Linked DNA regions of Homo sapiens: region 2 is linked to region 1. The links come from fine-mapping of genetic effects on gene expression. A gene starts in region 1. The other region holds a variant in brackets. All regions are shown on one strand. Distances are between the middles of the regions. Region 1 holds the start of GPR63 (G protein-coupled receptor 63). Region 2 has its middle 53 kb from the start of GPR63.

The links. PIP is the estimated chance that this variant, and not a neighbour inherited with it, causes the effect.
Region 2: its variant is the best candidate, but not a certain one, in a credible set for the expression of GPR63 in blood mononuclear cells (TOPMed, PIP 0.78).

Annotation. Positions count from the first base shown.
Region 1 is chr6:96,833,554-96,845,157 of GRCh38, forward strand. It overlaps GPR63 (G protein-coupled receptor 63), which reads right to left and starts at 3,924. Exons shown (of 2, transcript NM_030784.4): 1 at 3,715-3,924. RefSeq lists a silencer at 3,434-3,483.
Region 2 is chr6:96,777,897-96,790,854 of GRCh38, forward strand. No RefSeq gene overlaps it. Among named protein-coding and RNA genes, the nearest start is that of GPR63, 53 kb to the right of the region's middle. The variant T/C (reference allele first, on the strand shown) is at 6,006.

The DNA.
Region 1 (11,604 bases):
CTCCCCAAGGAAGATCCTTAGAAGTTTCCACAGAAAAGAATTTGCCTAAAATATTTTTCAAATGCTTTAATAACATAGACTGAGCTAAGTCAATTGAGAGAAAGAAGTTAACCAAGAAGCTTTGCTCAAAAACCCTAAAAGGTATGTAAAGCTTATAACTATAATAACACATAAAGGTTTAAATTGAAAATGATGTTAAGAATTTGAAAATGATCTAAGAATCAATTAATATATATGCCAGGTGATTGGTACAGTATCTGGCTGGGGGTTTTTCTAAATTGTATCTGGGAAGATGTAATTCTTTAGCATATCACTCAAAGGAAATGCTGATAATAATAACCCTATTATTAATTTCAATAGGTGACCACTAGATTGCCCCCATACCTGCAAATATACCATCTATTCCCCAAGACCCGAGAGCTGTGTTAAAATCCAACTTTTCTAACTCTTCATTATGTTTATAATGAACATGAATGAGCTTTCCTGTGTATTAAGCTAGAGTTTCACGCTTGAGTTTTCTGAATCTTCTGTCATACAAACAGAAGTGGATACAAATCTTGTCCATATTTACTGGTGCAGAGGCTAGAATGCATTTTATCCTATGTGTCAAACTTAAAGCCTGAAACAGCTTGCTGTCAGCTTCAGAAACCATTTTTACAAGCATGGCATACCGCCTCAAGCCAACCAAATCCTAAAGCATGTTGGGCTGCCCACACTTCAAATCATTTGGAATGTTCTCATGTTTTGTGGTTGCAAAAGTACCAATTTTGTGGATCATCTAGTTCAAATTGAGGGCACATCTAACCTTAAACAGAAAATTCCCCGGAAATTGAAACTATAACTGACCAGGATCACATCAGCTCTTAAGATCTATGATCTCAGGCTGGTAGTCAAACATCTCAAATGTTGTGTTTTGAAAGTTGAAGAAATGCAACATAAACTCTGTGAAACTCATTCATGTGTCTTCAAGGAAACACTAAGAACTCATCCTAAATATACATATGTCATAGTTGCAAAAAAAAAAAGGAAAAAGTGCCACCTGCAACAAAGTAAAGGTGATTTGCAGCAAATATAAACACATTTCTGGTAAACAGCTAGCAAATTAAAGAAAAAAAAACCGCCTAACAGATTACTTCATTTCATTTCTAATTTTCATACATAAGCTGAAATATAGCAGCTTCAGCTGTGAAATGTGGTAACAAACATAACAAAGGTGAATGAAATAGTTTTGCTTGTAGTAACTGGAGCACTGTATTTATACATATTGTTTTTCCAAGCATTAATGGGTCCCTCTCTCAAATCAAGTGCTTAAGACATCATTTCACAAATTGGAGTACCAGAACTTCCCCAAGGTTTGCCTCTCATGCCTTTGAGGTCTACTCTCTAAATCCCAGATCTATGAAGAATGTCCTAAAGGTTATTTTTGAAGTATTAAAAGAAGAAAACACTATATTGACAAACTAAATTTTACCTAGAATTTGCCTATTGAAGCTTAAGAAATGCCTGGTTCAATTATCCATTGGCAGGGTAATTCAATCCATTTGAATAGATAAATGTGGTTAGGATATGGTTCCCTGATCCAAGCCTTGTTAAGAGTTCGAGAACATACTGAAAACCAGTGCTTTTTAACTTAACTGATATTGACTAAAATGCTGAAAAGATGACAAGCCCTAGCAATAACTATTTTTAGCTGATATTTTAGACCTACTGTTCCTGGTGCACATGTATTATTAGGTCCCTAAATGGTTTTCATGTTTTTTATATACTCAATAGCATATACAGATATGGTATATATAGTTATACTATATATAGTATGGATACATAAATATAGATATATGTGTGATATGGATATATACATATACAAATCCACCTCTGTGTGTATCATTTCCAAAATACTCATTCACAAAACAATCAACCCAAATTAAATAAACCATAAACAAAATCTCAAGGTGCTCAAGTAACTCTAGGAACTAAGTCACATCCACTTAGGAACACTAAATTCTTACTTTCTTGCTTGCAGTCCAGCAAACTTAAGGTAAAACAGTAACTACATAGGGGTTTTAGTTATGTTTATTTTTCCTAAGCAAATTTTTCTCCAAGAATGTTCAGCTTGCTGAAATTTTCAGAAAATGCTTGAGATGGTGGGTTCTTTTTTTGAGTTTCGGTACTGGTATACTTTACAGCAAAGTGACAAAACTGTACTTAGAGATAAAAATCTATATCCCAAACAAAATTTTACAGTATTACTGGTTATTCTGGGATGATTTTCTTCGAAAACTTCCCATTACAAACAATATGTTTCCTACACTATCCCGTCTGCCTTGGTAGTATACTTTTCACACACAAAATTGTACGTAACGCATATACCAGAAATACGTCAAGGCACTCTTTTATTTAAATAAGCTCCCACATTCTGTTTTTATTGTTCAAAATGATCTGAATGCTCATAATTGATGTAATCAATTATGTCACTAAAATTTTGGCTATGCAACATTTTACAAAATATAGGGACTTTTCATCAGCACCTTAGATTTGTAGTTGGCAATGTGAGTGAATAAGGCAAACAGGAATAGAGGTGTGGCAGAGACCTAGGGGTGTGAGAAAATGGGGCTTCCTTTACCCACGGGACACGTGGGAAAAAAAACTTATCCACGTCTGCAATAAATGTACTTTTATGTTAGGTTTCATTAAATGAAACACGTATTACATACCTCGTCAATGGATTAGAATGTCTGAAGCAGTATCAGCTTATGCAAGAAACATGAGGTTTTTATCCATGATTCTTAGAAACACTACTCCTAGAACTGGTTGAAGGCTTCTTAATCTAAGACATAATGAAAAACAAGCTCACCCAATAAACAAAGAGAAATCCTATTTTAAAAACATATGGTTTAAACTTCATCCTACCTCACTAAAAACCTGCATGCTACTATAGGGATGCCTGTATTCCCTAAGTGTCGAGACTCAGTCTCATCCAAGACTAAACGATCTCTTTGAAAATTTGGGCAAGCCCTGGGGGAAATTTTCATAAAGATATGTTGTTGGATTTTTTTTTTAAGCACTCTGAGCCTCCACAACATATTTTATTATTAAAAAGAAGAATGTTTCCGAAAAGGGGCAGAGGAGAAAAGACTGAAATCAGGGCGACGTTGAAAACCGGCCAAGGATGCAACACACAGCGCCGCAAGCTGAACCACATGGAAGAGGGAACCTCTCTTAACTGTTGGAGCGCGAAAGGACCTTTCGCTCTCGCAAACAAGGTAAATTTCAGCCCTCAAGCAGCGAGACCACCGTGTAAAAGTTCAAGTGGAGCTCATCTCCTTCCTCTCACTCCCAGCACTGAATTCTCAACCAGAACAGCCCAGCAGGAAAGGAGCCGGCATGGGGTGCCCCTCTGCAGCCGACCGTTTTCCTAGAAGGCCTAACCGCTCAGACGGGCAGGGGAGGGGGGCGGGCGGCCCGGGAGAAACCGAGTCCCCGCCGGGTCCCCACCGTGTGGCGCCGACCGAAATAACTCCAGTCCAGCTGCAAAAACCCTCCCGAAAACCCAAGCTTCTCCGGCACAACTTCGGTCTCTCCAGCCTCATTCCTCCCCGCACTCCGCCAAACTGCTCGCCCTGCCCAGCGCAGCGGATGCAAGCGCTCCCCGCCCCGAGCGGCTACCTGTCCCGCGGGCCGGGGATCGCGGGCCGGGGATCCCGAGCCTCACCTCACCTCAAGCGAAGGGCAGCGCGCGGGCGCCCGCGGAAGAGCCCAGGGAGCATGGCTCCATGTAGTCCCTCCCGGAACTTTCCTGACATAGCACTTCTCTCCTCCGCTGCAGAGAACAACGCTGCCAGGCGGAGGAGGAAGGAGGACAACGAAGAGGAGGTGGTGGCGGCGGCGGCGATACAGGCGGCGGTGGCGGGAGCTGGAGCTGAAAGTGAGGAGCATCGCGGACGAGCGCCGCCGCCTCGCGAGCCGCCGAGGGGTTCCCGCCCCCAGGGTAACCAACGCTCCCTCTTAAAGGCGCCGGCCCCGGTTTTAGACCGGGAGGTGAGTGAGAGAAGAGAAAGAGGGAGGAGGCAAGTAAAAAGGGAGGGGGCAAGTAAAGAGGGAGGAGGCAAGTAAAGAGGGAGGAGGCAAGTAGAGACGGAGAGATCCCTGGAGGCCACGCCCGAGCTGCCCCAGGGCGGATCGCCGGCCCCTTTCGACCGCTCCCTGCCCTGAACCCCTCTATGCTCAGGTCGCATCGTTCCTCCGCCTGGGCAAAGGCATCGAGGGTACCGCAAGTGCGCCCACCCGGCACTGGGGCAACCCTCGTCGTTGGCCTGCGCCCTGCACCCCGCGCCTCGCTCCCAGACGGTCGCCCCGCCCCTAATCCCTGGCAGTCCTTTTAGGGTCCTGGTTTCCCGCTCCCACGGGCCCCCAGAGTGCACCTCCAGTGGCTACTGCCCAGTGGATTTGCGTTCCCCGAGGCTACTCGCGTTTCTTCTTTGGTTATTCTTCCTCATTTCCAACACAATGATGAGGGTCTCACGCAGGCGTCCAGAAGACTGAAATAACTAAAAGCCAGCTGGGGCCCCTAGACCAATGCTTGAAGGTGTCCCTGATGTGTGGCATGGGAGAATTGCCAGGTATCCTCCTTTACCCGGTGCTCTGTTCTCTTCCAATGGCCAATCCCCAGCTGGCCTCCCACTGGATTTCTAAAACGATTCACTTTCATCAACACATGGGCTGTAAAGATGCCAAACAACTCAGGAAGACCCCCCAGAAAAAGTATCATCTTGAGACAGTGGAAAATGCTGCTTTCAGTGACAAGTGATATTTTCAGCTATTATCAACATATGTGATCATTACTGAGGCCACAGCCTCAGGTGGTGATGCCCAGGAGGCTCCCAGCATCAGCAGCTATCGTCACCCTAGGAAGAGACCACAGCAGCAGTGGGCATGAGCAGCAGAGGGTTGCTACTGTCCACGGACTTGTTTTTCTACCTCATAGTTCCAACCCTTGCTTCTTGGACCTATGGGACTTCAGTATAGTGTTGTGCAGTTTGTACTCTGCACTGTGTCCTCTGTCTGAGGAGGTGGGCAGGCAATTTGGAGTTAAGATCTAGCCTGGGTTCCAGAGCACCAGTCCTAGCACCAAGCTCGGAGAGAGTGGCATTTCCTCATTCACACAAAGGCACTTGCATATCACTACCCTGAGACTGAACCAGAACATCTCAGTTCTTTGCCTCCTGCCACCTACAGCTGTGAAAGAAGCACTTGTGTTGAACTTGTAGAAGAATAAGGCAAGAGGAGACTATACAAAAGGTTGAAGAAACTTCTGTAACCAGATGGAGACGAAATAAGCCCTGGGCTCAATAAAAGCAGGAGACATGGTCTTGCCTGGACCAAACTTTTAAGATGGGAAAGGAGATTATCAGCGAGCAAAAGTGAAGTCAGGATAGTTGGATGTGGCCAGCACACAACTCAAACTGAGTTAGCAAAACCTGCAGCAAAGGGCATTGGAATTTATTGGTTCATATGTTTATAAATCCCATAAGTAGAACTGGCGCGCGCACACACACACACACACACACACACACACACACGTTCTTAGAAATCCTTTTTACTCCAGATACTCAAAGAGCATCAGGACTCAATTTCTCTCCCTGTCTTCATTGTGCTTTCACTGCACTGGTTTTATTTCTCTAAACAGAGGGAAGACCTACATCTCCAGTCTTAACATCCAACCTCCTTAGCAATTAGTCGCATCAGAAAGAAAGCAAGCTGAAGAATGTCTCACCAGACCCACGTGGATCCTGCGTTCATCTCTGAACTAACCATTGTAACTATGGGATGGAATGCACACTGCCAGGCTGGGGTTATTTGCCTTTATCTACAAAAAGGTCAAGGGAAATAATTGTATGTACCCTTCATATATACCCAAACCACAGGGACCGAGTAGAAAGAAAGAGGTTTCCCAAAGGAAAATTAAAGTGTTGTTAATAAAGAAGGCAAAAGAATGTTGAGTAGATAAAGACTATAAATGCCCACTACAATCCCCATTCCCCAGTATACACACATCACCACCACTGTCACCAAGGGGACTGACCACCTCTCTGCTCCTTTACCAACAGTCTCAGGATCAGAAGAATGAGAATGCTGATGGGTCATGGAGGTGCTAGTAATTGAGCCAACCAGCCACATCCTTTGGCCTCAGAGCCACTGAGAAGATCCTGAGTGACATTTGTGACATTTCACAAACCACCTGCAAACAAACAATATATAAACCATGATTGTATTCAATTATTTTTCCCTAAATTATAAACCTGCCTCCATGTACCTCAAGCCCACATTCATTGTTAGGCCTTTTTAGTTATGCAATCAATTTAATTTGATAAGAGCTCATGGAAATTCCCTGATATATATATATATATTCAACTTGGGGGAAAAAAAAGTGGCCTACGAATAATCACATTTCAGTATCCAAGTGCCAAAGAGCCCAGCTTTGTTTTTAAACTTCAGTAACTTTATCTTTTCAGAGAGAAAGATGTTATCTTTCTCTCTGAAAAGGTGTTTATTTTGCCTACCAAAAAGTGACAAAAAATTTCAGGCTTTTTTTGTCTCACACAAGAACTTTTCTTTTACAGTAGTTGCTAAAAAAAAAAGTTTTGTATTTTTTTCTTCATTTGTGCATTTTATAGAAATCCTCATATATCATAGAAATTTAGACTAATAAACTGGAAGAGACTTTAGAATAACCTAAAACATCCCTTTCATTTCAGAGCTAAAGAAATGAAAGCTCAAAGGTTGACTTGTGTAGGGTACATAGCTGTTTTTTAGTATCTGTGATGTCCCTAACACACATGTGCTTTTGCTAGACATTTCGAAGGATATAGAAGCAAAAGCATAGAATGTAGTCACTGTCCTCAAAGAGACATAACTATCTAAGATATAAGACAATTACAGAACATCACAATATATCATATAATTTAGTGTAAAAAGTGTGGGATGATCTCCGTGTATTAAAAATAGGCATCAGAAAATGAGACACTATGGACTGGAATAGTCTTGGAAACACTTTCTAGCGAGGAAGCAATTAGATGGTCTTTTTTAAATGCAGAGGAAAAAGGAAAGATTTTCCAAGCAAGAAAGCAAACAAAATGAGAAGGCATTGATGGGAAAAAGATCTTGCCACTTGCAGGAACAGAAATGAAACCTGTACTGTCATGGTTTAGAAAAGTTTTTCAAACTCCAAGTCATGAAGTCATTTTACTAAGTTTTGACTAGTATTATTTTAATTAAAATATCAGCATGCATCATACTTAATAAGTATTATTTGTTAAACTTGTGTTTCATTATCATGCGTGTTCTGAGTTATGACATGAATTCAATGTCTTACTTTGGTTAATGTTCACAGTAAGCTCAAAAGCCTCTGGTTCTGAAGCTAAATAGACTAGGTGTGAAACTGTTTTGAGGCAAGACATTGAGCAAATAACATCTCTCCAAGCATCAATTTCTTTATGTGCAAGAGATTTTCTGCACAGTCCTGTGCACACAGTAAGACTTGTAAATGCCACCTCTTATTGACTAGATTGGATATTTTCAACCCTGACTGCACATTAGAATCACCTGAGAGGTTTTTTTTAAAATACCGTTGCCTGGGGCCCATCCTCAGAGACCCAGATTCAATTTCAGGGTTGACTCTGGACATCAGTGAGATTAAAAGCTGCCCAAGTGATTCCAATGTGCAATCATGGCTGAGAACCCTGAGTTGGAGCCATAGAACACATCTAGCACCTGAGGAGCCTGTCTCTTTCCTCAGTGAGTACATTGACTTTGATAAGTTACGTTTCTTCCCATAGATAGCATGCCAGGTAGTCAGCAGATTTCTAACTACTTTCTACTCTGCATTTGCCCCTGAAAAATCTTCAACTGTGGTGTAAACTGCTCATGGTTTACCTCAGTAACACAGCATGAATCCTGAGTCATAATATTTCATGTGTCTCTCCACATGTACATTTTATGGTCAGTTGTAAGCATAGAGTCGTTTCTGGAGGTGTTAAAAGGCAGTAAAAATACCACCAAAAACTCCCTAAGGAAAAGCAGAAAGGCTAGAAGTAAGTGGCATTAGAAATCCATAAGCTGAATAATTAGCAGATGACTCATTAAATTCCAGCTATTTTCATCCTAACTTTTAATAGTGTAGTTTCTAAACATAGTAATTAGTGATGTGCTTTTTGTAATTTTACATTCAGTAATCCCTCTTAAGTGTTCATAACTTACAAACTTTTTCCCCTATTTAATCAATCCCTTTGTGTATGAAAGAGTAAACATTTTCAAATACAACTTGTCCAAGAAATTCAGTATCTAGACCACTGTATTTTGACTGATTGTTTTGTCTATGTAAATCCAGACTTTTCTGAACTTTGGCTGGAGAAAGATAATAAAGGTAGCATAAATTTAAATTCCCCCAAAGAGACATAACAACGAAGATAAAGGGGGAAAAACACTATAAACTACAAGTCTGATAAGCAGATACCATGTACTTCATGATATGACAAAATCAGAAGTACCCAGAACCACTGAGAGGTTTTATGGCCTAAGCAACGGAATCTGAATCTAATCAAGCCTCTAGACCTAACAGGAAATACAGGGGACAGAGGATCAAGTTAGAAATCATCTGAAGAAAGCAATCAATCAAATCCAGAATGTCAAACATTCAATAAGCAAAGTGACCTGATTTCCATATGGAATCAATGACATGAAAAAACAGGGGTCAGACTACAAAAGAGTAAAAGAGATTTAAGGATCATAATTAACTGCAACGTGTGGACTGTATGTCCTGTTTGGTACAAACAACCTGTGAAGATAATCCTTGAAATAATCAGGAAAATCAGATTATGGATTAAGTAATTTGATACTATAGATGAATTATTGTTAATTTTGTTAGATGTGATAATGGCATGACAGTTATATATAAAACAAATATGTCATTGGGGTGCATATTGAAGAATTTCATAATCCTGCAAAAATAATGGAAGGAGGAATAGGTGAAAAAATGACTAATAATTTTTGAAGCTGGTGGATGGAGATTTATTACCTTGTACTAATTATTATTGAGTATATTTGGAAAACTCCCTAATGAAATTTTTAAAAATTTCTATTTGATGTTGAGCTAACCTTTTATTAAAATCTTTCTCTTGGTTTTGCTAATAGAACAGTGATAAACATATGTGGATCTAGGCCTGGTTGTATGTCAAGTATCCTGAGAAACAAGCTTTAAGTTTCAGAAATCTTTTATTATAATATTTTTGACCAATATTTACTGGTTACATTCAAGGCATCTTTCAACTCACTGTACACTGAGGACAAGGCTCTAATGCCAGTCTCTTTGCTAAGGGAACCCTCAGTGGCATAGGATTGGACCAAAAGAGTGACCAGTGAGGGATTCTGTAGGGAGAGCACACTCCGTCCTACACAGCGGCTTCTCTGCGCTGCAGTTGCTTACTCTCCAAGTATCTCTGGGCTTCCATCTTTCTAGGGTGGCTGGTGTCCAGTGACTAGCTCTGGCTGCCAGCTGCCTCTCTGCGCTGCAGTTGCTTACTCTCCAAGTATCTCTGGGCTCCCATCTTTCTCGGGTGGCTGGTGTCCAGTGACTAGCTCTGGCTGCCTCCATCTTGGGATGTCCATGGTGAAGTCTGTGGTTAAGTCCATAGGGACTAAATGGTTGATGCTTCTGTTCTTTTTGTAAGCCTTAGTAGAGACATGGTCTCTTGGCCAGAAACCTTTCCCTCATCCTACCACATCGCACTATTTTCTACCCCTCAAAGAAGACACACAAGTGTGTGCGTGCACACACACTCCAAGAAAACACTGCAGCGGTAAATAAGATTCAGTAGGCCAAGACCAATGAAGGAAGACGTAGAGCAGCCATTCAGCCTGCTTTTAGTCCATGCCTTAGCCTGTTGTTTTTCCAACACTGGTATCTGGACCATTATTGACACATGATTACTTTTAGGGTAGGGTAACTTTTTTTTTTTTTTTTTTTTTTGAGACGAAGTCTGGCTCTGTTGCCCAGGCTAGAGTGCAGTGGCGCTATCTCGGCTCACTGCAAGCTCCACCTCCCGGGTTCAACCACTCTCCTGCCTCAGCCTCCCGACTAGCTGGGACTACAGGCACCCCTGTATTCCCACGCCTGGCTAATTATTTGTATTTTTAGTAGAGACAGGGTTTCACCACGTTAGCCAGAATGGTCTCAATCTCCTGACCTTGTGATCCGCCCGCCTCGGCCTCCCAAAGTGCTGGGATTACAGGTGTGAGCCACTGCTGCCCGGCCAGGGTAGGGTAACTTTTAATATGTCTATTTAATGTATCAAGAATTAGAAAAATAACATATCAATCTCATTTCACGGATATTACTTCTTAGGATGACGCTAGATTTTTTTTTTAATGAGTTCGTTTTTGGCTGGGAGCATTGGCTCATGCCTATAATCCCAACATTTTAGGAGGCCAAGGCAGGAGATCACTTGAGACCAGGAGTTTGAGACCAGGCTGGGCAACATAGTGAGACCCTGTCTCTACTAAAAAGCAATTAATTCAAATAAGTCAATTTAATAAAAATGTTAAGTGAATAAAAGTGCAGATATTTTGAGGATATGCAAAATTCAAGAAAGTTTTTATATATGACTAAGGGTTTTGAAACTCTGCTTTTATCTACAGAAGCAAAAGGAGTCTTCATGGCTCACACACTGCCAGCCCAGTTCTGCAGGGGCTTAACTAGAAAGACAAGGTAGTTAAGTAAACGCTTCGGCATTTGGAAATCACGAATTATACTTCTAATTCCACCATGACATAGGGAACTTCCATTCCTTCTTGGGAAAAATTCTGGTAGTGGTTGTTCAGCTAATCATCCCTTCTCTCTCCCTCAACCCTTTCTCATATAAGTTAGAAATAGTTCTTTATTTTTCTCTTCCTCTAGTGGACATTGTTATTATCTCTGACTTACCAAAACAGGGATTCCCAAATTAATTTTTTATGTTTCATAATTTTATTCTCTTTTCTTTCTCTCTCCATGTGGCTAATACCTTTAGTCCTCTCTTATAGGCAGTCCTTTCTGCTGGTCTCTGCCTTGCTGTAACCATGCATGCCTTTCTTAAAGTTTCAGATGACTTCTCACTGTTCTGCAGGTACTATACAGATCCTGTAAAGAAGCCTTCCTGATTTGAGAAAAAGAATTACACATTAACTCCTTGTGGCTTCCCTTGGCTGGCTATGCTATAGTCTCAGAGCTTGAAGATCAGTTCTTTGAATCAACTCAGTCAGACAAAAATAAAGAAGAAGAAAGAATAATGATCAAAACCTCCAAAAAATATGGTGTTATATAAAAAGACTGAATTTTTGACTCATTGTTATTCCTGAAAGAGAGGGAGAATAAGCAAGCAACTTGGAAATACATACTAGAGGATATTGTCCACAAAAATTTATCCAACCTTGCTAGAGAGCCCAACATTCAAAATCACAAAATGCAGAGAAACCCTGAGAGTTACTATATAAGATGACCATCCCTAAGACATATAATCATCAGATTTCCCAAGGTCGTCATGAAAGAAAAAATATTATAGGCAGCAAAGAAGA
Region 2 (12,958 bases), 55 kb before region 1:
ATGGATGAAGCTGGAAACCATCATTCTCAGCAAACTATCGCAAGGACAAACCATCATTCTCAGCAAACTATCGCAAGGACAAAAAACCAAACACCGCATGTTCTCACTCATAGGTGGGAATTGAACAATGAGAACACATGGACACAGGAAGGGGAACATCACACACCAGGGCCTGTTGTGGGGTGGGGGGAGAGGGGAGGGATAGCATTAGGAGATATGCCTAATGTTAAATGACGAGTTAATGGGTGCAGCACATCAACATGGCACATGTATACATATGTAACAAACCTGCACGGTGTGCACATGTACCCTAAAACTTAAAGTATAATAAAAAAATTTTAAAAAAAGAAATTTGCAATTAAAAAAAAAAAAAAACCTCTGTGAGAAACATTTAACCAGAGCAGAAATGCAAAGAAATCAGCTATGGTATATAGTTATTAAGGAGAATGAGTTGTATCCAGGTAGACCAACCTATAAAAACAGCCATGAGCTATTAATTTGAAGACAAAACAAAGATATTGTGCAACAATATATACACCATGACCCGATTTTTGTAAAATGAATAAACAAGTAAACAAAACTAAACACAATAGAAGTTTGTAAATCTCTATGAGCCCAGAGGAAAATACACAGGTACATCCAGCCAAAGGTTAGCATTAGCTACCTCAGGAAAGCATAATTAGAAAGAAGAAAGTAGAGATTAAAGTTCTCTGTCATATTTCTGTATTGCTTTGACTTTTGAAAATAAATTTTATTATCTTATAATTAAGCAAAACAAAAACGTAAGGGATAAAATGTAAACTAAGGAAGACACATACATCATACATGAGAAATAATTTTTGATTCAATTCAGTAAGTATTTGTTCAGTGTATGGACTGATTAGATATATATTAGATATGGTGCACTTTGCCAAAGTAATAGAAAACCTGATTCAAACTGGCTTAAACAAGGACATTTATTGGCACACATAACCAGAAGTCAGCCGTGATGTGGGTTTCAGGAGTGACACCTGTGCATTGATTTCATCCTCAGTCCAAAGGAAAAAGAGGCAGAGTTCTGAGATATAGTCTCCATGTCCAGAATATGAGTGACCTCCTTTTTGGAAGGTAGCCCAGGAGATGAAGGAAATGCTTTCAGGAAATCTTTCCTTGTGCTTCATCAGCTCAAATTGTATCATGCACCTAATCATGATAAACTCATTGGCAAAAAAAAAAAGAAAATTTAGATCAATCAACTACTGTTAGAGTGGGGTGTGAGGATGGCCTCTTCTGAGGACCACAGGGATGAATATCTGAACAAATTTCCATTAACAAAGAGAAAGAAGAAATTGTGGCTATGGTCAAACAACAGTGAACAATGGTGGCATGTCTTTACCCTAACAGTGTTTACACTGTTGCAGAAGGCAAGCAATAAAAAGAAATTCTAATTGTGAAGAGTGTTATGAAAAGGCAAGTATATACAGTGCTATGCTTTCAGAACAGATAGCGAGGATTTACCATTGACAAGTGGGGTTGCGGAAGCTTACAGAAGACCATCCTGAGGAATGTTTAAGACCTGAGGAAGAGAGAGAAACTCTACTAAATCCAAATTTATGATTTAAATTAAATAAATAAAATAAAGTTTACTTCATTTGTACCAGAATTTCACTGAATTCTTCTCACTCTGCACTGACCCATAAAACTTCACTAGAAACTTGTGATTATTTGTATCTCTGTTAAGGGAAGGGTCAAGGCACATCAGAATTCTTTTCAGCTCATGGCAATTGTCTGACATGCTAGTTGCTACCTGGTTAAGTCAAACTGCTTAAAGATGAATTTTTTACTAATAACGTATGAAGACAGGAAGGCCAGTGGGTGTGATATGTTTAAAGAACTGAAAGCAATGCCGATGGCCAGAGCCTAGAGAAACCAATGCTAAGGTTACATCTGCTGTATGTTAGGAAAACTCCCATAAATTATCAAGGAAAAGACAAATGCCCCGACAGAAAAATGGGAAAAGTAGTTCACAAGAAATAGAAAAAGGAAATAAACATGTAATATTGCTTGGTCTACTAACAATAAAAGAAAAGCATTTTGAAATACGTTCCATTTTTCATTTACCAAAATAAAAATTAAAAACTAATTCTGGAGCTCAGTCTTCAATTAGGACATAGGCATTTGCTACAATGAATATAAATTCATACAACTTTTCTAAACAGCAATTTGACAATAAGTCCAAAATTTCAAAAATGACTGACTGCCTTCTGAACCTCACAATTCAACCCCTTGGAATTTATCTCAAACAAACAAACGAAACAACAAAACCCACAAATGTGAGTAAATATGTTCAGGGATGTTCATCACAGCATTTTATGTAATATTGTAAAGCAATACTGGATGGAATTGTTACTGAGTGAAAAGCAAATTAAAATAGTATTAGAATCTGACTTCTCAGCCAAGCACAGTGGCTTACACCTGTAATCTCAGCACTTTGGGAGGCTGAGGCAGGAGAATCACTTGAGGCCAGGAGTTTGAGACCAGTATGGACAACATAGCAAGAACCTGTTTCTACAAAAAAATAAAATATATATAGCTGGGCATGGGGGTGTGCGGCTGTAGTCATAGCTACTTACTTGGGAAGCTGAGGTGGGAAGATGGCTTAAGCCCAGAGTTTGAGGCTACAGTGAGCTATGATTGCACCATTTCACTCCAGCCTGGGCAACAGAGTGAGACCCTGTCTCTTTAATAATAATAAGAAGAAAGAATTTGATTTCTGTTTTATATAGCAATGATACACATTCACAAAAAAAGAGAAATATTTATAGGTTATTCATAGGTTAGTTGAGGATATTTATAGGTTAGTTGTCAGTGGATTTTTTTTTAATATTTTGTGCTTTGCAACATCTTTCAGATTTTCTATATAATATAAATGTTTTCATTTTATAATAAGAACGGAGACGTTTTTAAAAAGAAAAGCCAAATCAGCCCTTTTTGGAGGGACTTATCTCAGTAATCAAGGCAAAACTATAATTTTCCTTTATTTTTCACATCACTATATCAATTCCCAGCTTCTCAATACAGAGAGGGCTTAGACACAGTGAACTCAAATTATCATGGTGAAAAAAGGAAATAAGACCTGTCATATAATAATAGGGTAAGATATCCACATCTTGTCATTTTTCCTTTAAAGCAAATATTTATTTTATTATCACATTATTGGAAAATGAGAAAGAATTGGGAGGAAAATTTATTAGTTCCATTGCAGCAACTGCTGACGAGATGAACAAATAAGCTATCATATGGGATACAAGTCCATCCTCATTATTTATCATTCTAACTACCATTAACAGAATGAGATCTGTCTGCCAGGTGCCTTACAAACTTCATTTTATTTCCAAATCTCGGAAGAACAATGAAGGATATGTTGTCTTTTCTTTCTTTCACAGATGAGAAAACAAAGGCTCAGAGTAAACAACTGGCCAAGTCAAAACTTGACCCCACATCTGCTGCAATTCAAAGCTTATGTTCCTTCCTCCACACTAATCTACTTCCCCATAGCACACTTTATAACAGTAACTCACATTATTAACATTGTCCAATAGTTGTATTTCCATATTTCAGCAATTGATTCAATATTTATTGAGGGACTACATATCCCAGTGACTATATAAGGAGTAGGATATCAGAAAATGTTGCTTGCCTTCATGGTGCACCCAGAGGCAAGGTTGTCTGCTGAAGCTGAACGAGAGTTAGGAAGAACTGATGTGGGTTAAAAATAATCAGTTTTGGAGCCTATAAAAAGAGCTGACCAGGGCAGTGTAAAAAGTTTGTCAAGTAGTGCTGAGGTCCAAATAAAGTTGGAGAACATGAACTTGAAGTGGCACCAATTTTTAGGATTGTGCAATATTATTGTTTCCAACAGCATTCATTGGCTTTGTTTGGAAACCAAATGTAATGGAAATGTGTTGTTTTTTGATGACCCAATATTTATAGACCATCATTTTAGTCATTGTGTTACAGTAGGTAGTCAGGCATGAGCAGGAAAGGAGAGGGCTCCCCATCCACCAGGAATGTGAGGCAACCATTAGGTGATGGTCTGGCAGTTGTCACACTACCTCTCTAAAAATGATCATTGGTTGCAGCCAGTGCCAGGGAGATGGCTTGGTAGCTGTCACATTAAAATGATAGTTGGTCACAGGTGCTAGGGAGAAGCAATTTCTCAACAGAATAAAAACACTTGAAAATGGTAATCAGCAACTTCCAATAAAATCTCAGGAACTGGGTGAGTGAGCTTGAGCGTGAGTTTTAAGAGACAAAATGGCTAAGTATGACCTTCCAGGGGCATTCCACTAGAAAAGGGAAGAAAGCCTCAGGTGACTGTATGCACAACGCTAGTAAACACACTGCACGTGCTCACCTCCCAAGTGCAAGGAAGGCATTGCGCATGCAGGCAGCCCACCCTAAGGGAAGAATCATGGGAAAAGAGACGCAAGATGACAGGAGGGGGCCAGCATATAAAGTCCTAGGATCAAGGTTAAACGGGGCACATGACCTTCAAACTGCCCACTTGGGTCTCTTCCAAGTGTACTTTCCTTTCTTTCCTAATATAAAGCTTTTAAATAAACTTCCACTCCTGCTCTGAAACTTGCCTTCATCTCTTTTTCTGCTTTATGCCCCTTAGTTCAATTCTTTCTTCTGAGAAGGCAAGAATTGAGGTTGCTGCAGACCTGTACACACTCGCTGCTAGTAACCCAGATAACCGTATTGCACCCCAACCTCTCTCTAAGAAGTCACCCACTCCTCCTCTCGCTTTTAGCCCACACACTTCTGGGATCCAGGGTGGAGCATGTTGTCTGGCCCAAACAGATTGGTTAATTTTCTGTTACTTACAACGGAAAGAGCCCTTCCAGCATGTTAAAAACAAAAAGGACTGGAAGTGGGGTAGTATAAGAGATGAATTAAGAAGATGGAATTGGCAAAGTCGTGGTGAAAATAACAAGGACTTTCTGTCTTGGGCAGGGAAGCTGGCAATCCTTGCTAAGGAGTAGTGAAATATTTACTTGTATCTTGGGACTGAGACCATGTGCTTCCTGAAGCTTCCTCAATACAAGACTTGATAGGAAAACAAATGGGAGCTCAGAGTGTTATTTGTTATGGCCTTCAGTAAGGTCCTACCAAGAAAATATTGGATTTAGATTGAAATTGGCCCATCTGAAAAGAGAAAAGAAGGAAAATTACAAATATGCTAGTAGAGACCATTTCTGTTGAGGGTCCACAATCTGAGATGGCTAAAAATCCAATGAAATGAAACCTGGGGTAGAAAATGGCACACTATGCTGTCATTTAACAAACATGCCAGAAAGCTGGGAAGAAGTCATCCCCGGGAGGAAATTGGGATGTGTTCCCCCTCAACTATCTGCAGTTATGCACCCCAGGACTGACAAAATTCAACTCACCTAATTGCAAAGAAGAAGCTAGGATGGAGCCTAGGGGCAAGAGGAGAATTACTGGTGACTCCTACCGCAGCTGTCGCTTGATTTTATTTCTAGGTAGAAGCCATTCAGTTGAGGGGCAAGTATGTGAGCCAATGCCTGAGACAAAGGCAAGGCCAGCTGCTTAAGAGATTGAAATTCCCATGCCCAGTTTCACAAGTCAAGAACTATGTCTTGACATAATGTTTGACCTTTAGTTACTAGCCCTTGGAACTCAGGGAATAGAAAGGGAGGCTGTGGGTAGGAGCCCTCATTAATTGATAAAGAAGTTGCTTTGCTTGAGCTCTAAATCAACTCCCAGAACACTGAAATTTTACTAACCCAAAGCAGACTCCTTAGGGATAACTCTTGGAAGGCTCACTCTCTCCAATACCCATCTGAGGTGTAGCCATGGAAAGCAATGGACAAGAGAGAACCTTCCAGAAAGCAGAATAGGGATTATCCAACTATTTATTAAACACGCACAAACAAATATTTGGAATATAGTACTTTTGCAGTAAAAGAACCTGAGATATAGACAACTTAGGACATTTA[T/C]TTTCAATGACAGTTTGTCCCATTGATGCAAATGGTCTTTTCTAACTAATCCTAGTTCCTGAATCCCAGGGAGCCTCAGAAGGAGAACTGAAGATTAAGGTCTGGGTGGTATACAGGAATCTGGAGGAAATCTTGGGCCAGGTCAAATATCTTCCCAGGAAACTTGCAGCCACAATTCCAGAGGCATAATCTGAATTATAGTCAAGAAAATACAACACATTTAGAGCCCAGCATCAGATCCTGGGAGTAAAATGAAATCATAAATGGAAGAATTAAGAAATGAGCTCAGAAGATGGGAAAATCTCATTTACGAGTATGTGAGGGCCCATGAGACACATAGGATTGTTTAAGGTGCACTTTTATATGGATGCCTATTTATCACAGTTGACCTCCAGTACTAGTTCCATGTGATCCTCCACCCAAACATTTCTGAGCCATAAGCCCTATCCTAGTGTGCACCCATCAGTGGTAATCAGTGGTGTTTACTCAGACTTAAACAAAGTAGCTGGACCTATGCACCAGGACCCGGAGGACAGGATTTTCTCCAACTACTATTCTATGGGACTGTGTCCAGCCTGCCTGGATTCTACAAGCAGTGTTCATTGCCTTATTGGAACAGTTACAAGAGGGAAGAAGACAAGAAGAAAATAATAAGCTAGTAAAAAGAAGAAGAAAACTAGCAGTTGCACTTACTAGAGCAGACTACAGCATTTACAAATCATCAGATAAAGGGCACCTTGAATAGACAGAGGGGAATATTTACAGAAGCAGCTGGTTTCCCTAGGATGTCATTGTAAATGTACCCACCGATTCTGCTATCATATGGCAGCAGCATTCTTCCTCCACTCACATAGTTTATGTCCAGCCCTCTGCCAATGAGAAGATATGGCTGGCTGGTCAGTTGACCTCCTATACACAGACAGCTGACTTTGTGGCCTAGAGTAATAAATCATAGACGTGTCTGGAAAGCCTCCCTGGTGTCAAACACTCTGGTTCTCATTGACCCTGAATAAAGCCTGTGCCAGCAAACAGAACTTCAAGATACAGCAACACATTAACTGATGCCCTGATAAAGGCGGCAGATGGGTGTGAAGGCACTTAGTGCCAGGCTGGGATGGCCTAACATGGCCTGAAATACTGTGAGAAATCCTCATGCTGATCTGGGGAAAGTTGGTTTGGTCATGAGTGTGGGATTGTTCATCTGTTTGTCTCTCTTCTCAGCCAGGATATCAAGACTGTCAGTCATTCTGCCTCATCCATAAATTTCACAGCCTGGGATACAGAGCTCATCAATGCCATAAGGAAGTTGAGGACTTAGACTGTGTCAGAGGAAATCTTTTTGGCATGGGTCTGAAGATGGAAGCTGGAGCTGTACACGGGCTAACTCTCATGGGCTACTATCAAACAGTGAGGGAAACCCACAGTCTCAGGTGAAGGTTTTCTCTCTTTGGGATGCTGTGGCCACAAAGTGGTCACTGTTGGCTCTACTGTGCAGAAATGACTTTGTTTTCACCAAAACTCATTTCCTTTTCATCTGGGGCACACAAGCTAGACCATATTTCTGCCTCCACTGCAGGAAGGTGCAACCACATAACCAACTTCTATCCACAGAAATATTTGTGAAAGTGATGGAGGCCATATTCAAGTTTGGCCATAAAAATCTTCCAGGTGTCCAGGCCTGGTATCTCTTTTATCACTGGCTTTATATTGGAATACAGCTGTATATTGGAATACTAGCTGTATATTGGAATACATTAGGATCTGCATGCTGAAGATACTAGAGCTTCCCATAGAAGGATTCCTGGGTGATTGCTTGGAGCCAACTGGGGACATTTGAATTGGATTGTTACATGAAAATGAAATCAACTATTCTTATGTTAAGCTATTGATTTGAGGGGTTTATTGACACAAAAGCTATCACTACTTTAATGAATACACAGATTGATTTTCATGTCACATTTGTGGGGTCAGGGTAATACACCCAGAATAATGTTTGCACCAATGATTACCCAGGCAGCCTAAGGAAGCATGGCTAGAGAGAGAATTTTAACTCCTTTAAGAAGGAAGCACAACTAACTGCTAGAAAAAAAGCCCCAAAAGTCAGTCAATGGAGGAAGTCATTCACAAAAGATTAAGTAGTAAGACTTTAGCCAGGATGCCAGTGGGCGAGTCAAGTTGCACAGCATGAAGACAATCAGAGCACATGGTATATAGAACAAGGGCAGAGGAGGTGTGAGGGCAACAAAGGTATATTTTCTTCAAATGACAATAGAGAGAGATCTGAAGGCATAAAAGAACTATGTAAAACCAGATAACTTCAGCCCCTACCTTTAAGCCAGCTCTGCACCCCATTAACTTCCTGAGGCCTTTACACACTGGCATCATTCTTGTAAAGTCCATTTCTTAAGGTTTATAAATTCTTAGGTCATTTCCCAAATTCTCTCATCTACCCTTGATGTGCACTTGTGTTGTAATAGATTTTATTATTATTTCTGTGTGGTAAGGCCAACACATCAGGAGATGAGTGCCATTGAAAAGACAGTTTATACTACTAACAGTTCGCAAGAAAGAGTACATGTTACGCCATAGGAGGCTATACTGGGATCTGTCACAGGGCAGAAAGAGAAGGGGAACTGTGGGCTGAAGCTTCTATTGTGCATTGCTCAGGGGTGAGGCAGGGTATGCAGACTTGGGATTGGTTAGTGTGACTAATCCAGCAAGCTCTGGAGCCTAAGGGCTGTTCCTAGTGTCTGACTGGGGGAATTAGGGTAGGTGGGGTATATGGCTGACTTAGGGAATAAAAGCTTGATAGGGAAGGTGTTTCTGGATATGGACTTAATCAGCTAAAGAAGGGCAACTGGCCAGCCTCTAACCAGGGCCCCCAAACTAGGTCAAGACAGTATTTGAAAAGCTATATTATAACCTGTCCCACAGTGACAGTATTTTCATGGTTCACTTCCTAGCCCTCACCATATCCCATGTTCCATATTTTAATTTTTGTCATAAGCATGATTGCTGAGTATACCCTTGTGGGTAATGGTTTCCTTTCCAGAAGAGGAAGGAACTGCTGTTTTTACTCTAGTGTTACTCCTAACCCTTCTAACGTCCATAGTACTATGTCGGCCACTTTGGGAATTATATTGAAAGCACCCAGATAAGCACCCAGGCTACAGAAAGGGTCAAATTTCCATGAGGCTCTGCTTCTGAGAATCAGGACTTCATGACCAGAGCCACGGGCCTCCAGATCTCCTGAGATCCCATGGTCAAGCTAGCATTCCTGAGAAAGGAGGTATTTGGCATTCAGTTAATAAAGACCTGAGTAGGAACTTCACCAGCCTGAGTCCCTCCTCACTACCTAAATCTTTTCTGCCTTTCTGATGGTCATCATGTCTGAAAATTTTCCCAGGAATAACCTAGCACAAAGAAACTACCATTGTTTGTATTATTTAGATCTCAAAAGTCTTCTGTTGCACTGGCCTCCAGAAGCTGCATGCCTGCCTGGCCTGCCTAGATTTCACCCTACACTCAGACCTTCTCTGAAGATATAAGGGCCAATAATGCTTAACAGGGATCTTGAATTCATTTCTTGTGTCTCTTGCTTGCAAATGAGAAACACATTACTTTAGGTCACAAAGTGGATATGCATGTTTTACCTATGTCAGAAATTGTGCGGTGGCACTGCTGCAAATTACCAGCGCTGAGTAGTAATGCTGAACCTGGTATATACTGAGATGAAGAAGTGATGAATAATGTAGACAAATCACCAAGCTTAGAGCCAGCCGACCATGGAGGAGTTGAGGACAAGCTGAGCAGGCCAGAGGCAACAGGATGAGTCAGGAGGCCCAAGCTAGGTTGATTGGGACAATCAGATTCTAAAGGAAAATCCTTCATGAATGAGGAAAGAATAAAGTGAAGGAAACAAAAAACACATGAGTTTCAGTGTCCATACAGACGCAGGTTTAAATTCTTGTTCTGAAACCAGCCCAACTGTCCCATATAACTGATGTTTATGGTTTCTTTTGAAAAAACCTAGAAATTGACCCTCGCAGTCTTAAAACTTGAGAAACTTGCATTGTCTTATCTGAGTTTCTTTCTCAGGAAACCAACCATCAGGCCTCCCAGACAGTGTCAAGAAACTGAAAGTTTCCAATCAGTCACTGCATCTGGACAATGAGACGTCAGACCCAATACCTGTCATGATTGCCTAACCAACCACTTGCTGCCTGTTAACCAATTCCTCTTCCTTACCCCCTTCTCCAATTCCTGTTTTCCCATGTGGAGTTCCATTTCTTCCCCGCTATATAAACCCCTAATTTTAGTCACTTGCGGAGACAGATTTGAGATTGATCTCCCATTCTTGGCTGCAACACTAGAAGCCTTCTTCCCTGGTGATACTCGTCTCAGTGATGGCTTTTTCCGTAGTGAGCAGCAGGGAACCCCTGGTGTTTTGGTAACAGTACCTCCACTTTATGAGTCCCGTAGCCTCTTAAAATCCAATTAACCACTTGAAGCTTTAAAGATTTATAAATAATATCTACCTCCCAGAGTCATTATAAGGACTGGCGATTACATAAAGTATTTGCATCACCTAGCAGGCATCAAATAAGTGACTTCCATTAATGTAATTATTTGGTTGTGGACTCTCTATGGGCTTTAAACAGCAATAAAAGTCTTAACCAGGAACTGACAACCGAAATCATTATTTATAACACTTACCTTGCTTCAACCAACATTGAACCTTTGTTTAGTATTTACATATTTTAGAACTTACTCATTAAGCAAAGTAAACACCTTTTATATGTAAAAGTCTGAGCTAGTTGCCAAAAACACAGCATTACCCACCCCCACCCCATGCACATACCATAATGTTTCCTGCCTTTTTTTGGTTTTTTTTGGAGATGGAGTCTTGCTCTGTCGCCCATGCTGGAGTGCAGCGGTGTAGTCTTGGCTCACTGCAACCTCTATCTCCCGGGTTTAAGCAATTCTCCTGTTTCAGCCTCCCAAGTAGCTGGGACTACAGGCACACGCTGCCACGCCCAGCTAATTTTTTGTATTTTAGTAGAGATGGAGTTTTGCCACGTTGCCCAGGCTGGTCTGGAACTCCTGAGCTCAGGCAATCTGCCCTCCTCAGCCTCCCAAAGTGCTAGGACTATAGGCATGAGCCACCGCACCCGGCCAATGTTCCCTGTTTTTACAGACTATCCATCTTTGTTTTAAATGGTCAGTGTTTCAAAGATTTGTTACTAAATTTTAAGTTTTCCTCACTTCTATACAATAGTAGACTGATTTGGCTGCCTTTTTGTTCTTCTAAATTTTCTTTTTTTATTAAGCCAACTGTTTGTTTTGGCACCACATTAATGTATGTACCTTTTAGTCTATTTATACATGTCACATCTTGGATTGACTTTTTATTCCCAGTTTCTTCCTGGCAAAGACAATGAGCACAGTGAGCATACTTAATAAATGTTACATAATAATAACTATTAAATGTTCCTTAAAAAATCTCAAGCAGATTTTTCATCTTTAGCTTCTACTTTGGGATAATTATATCCTTCCTCAAAGCTATTTATAGCTCCCATCAGGAAGAACAACTGAAAAAAAATGTCACAGTCCTGCCAAAACTGTGGTGAAAGTGATTTAAACTCTGAAGATCTGTTGCAAGTGTTCAAAATGGCGTTCGACATATGTATATCTAATTCCATCAACAGAAAACTTTTCCCAACCAAAATCTCCATGACGGAGGTGGTCATGGAATATGACTTGTCCATATCCCCATCATCAATCATTCCGATTACCCAAAACAGTCAAAGAAACGCACCTTACATGCAGTCATTATTAGTCCATCTGCATGTGCACTCTTCAGCTGCATCATAAGTCATGTTCTCCCTCTACCCTGTGAAGAGCCTGAGCCCCAGCATATTTAGTCGAGACCATAAGTTGCAGTCACAGGGCCACCTCATAAATAAGTGAAATGGAGGACCTCCTGCATGACGTGAATTGGAAATCATAGGGCCAAAAAAATATATACATATGTTCAGTATTCAGGGCTGCCAGATTTAGCAAGTACAAATTAGCAATCTTATTCGCTCTACACATTAATCTCCAAACTTGCCTGGATGGTATAAGAAAACCCCAAGATTACTTTCTCTCTTAAGTCCAGGAAGCAGGTTAGAATAGTAGGTGAGTCATCAGAGACTGAAGACATGGGCGTTGATCTCAGTTCTTGCTACCTAGAACTTATTTGGCTTGGAAAAGTCCATCCTAGTTTTTACCAGCAAGATTCTATTATCAAAAGGTCCACTTCCAGACTTTGAGAGGGTACTGCTCTCTGTGAGCCACCATGGTAGATGCTGGGGAAACCAGGAACAAGCCTAGTGCCCTGCCCTCAGGGAGCTTAGCATCTAGTAGGAGAGAAAGTGTAATTAAAGGAGAAAGGTGGGGTTAGAAATAAAAGATCTAGGTCTATATGAGAAGTCTTGGGTGGGGGGGTGTGGAAGAGGTGGCTGGCATCACATCTCTGTTAGACTACATTTCTGTATTTCCCTTCAGTATGCAACTTGTTTTACTGTATATTTGTTTTCATGAGAAGGCTTTTGCCCTCAGGAGAAATTAAATAGAACCCATTGCTTGGCAATAGCAGCCTTCACACAGATTCACATACAGTGATGTCTTGCATTCTAGGTTAATCATAGCTTTTGAGATTACCTTTGGGGAAATTGTGTAAGAAAAATCCTTTTTTCTCTCCTGTCAGAGAGAAATGTCTTCTGTGCCATTTGCAGTTACCTTGCTAATGAGATGAGTCCACAGAGAAGAGGTAAGTACAGAAACGTATCTCTGGCTGACAGCTTCCCAAGGACTCCCACCATCCATGAACAAAGAGTTCTTCCAGTTTAAGTACAGCAAAAGTGATAGCAATACCTACCAGAGCAGGTGGGCTATGGAAGGCCAGCTTA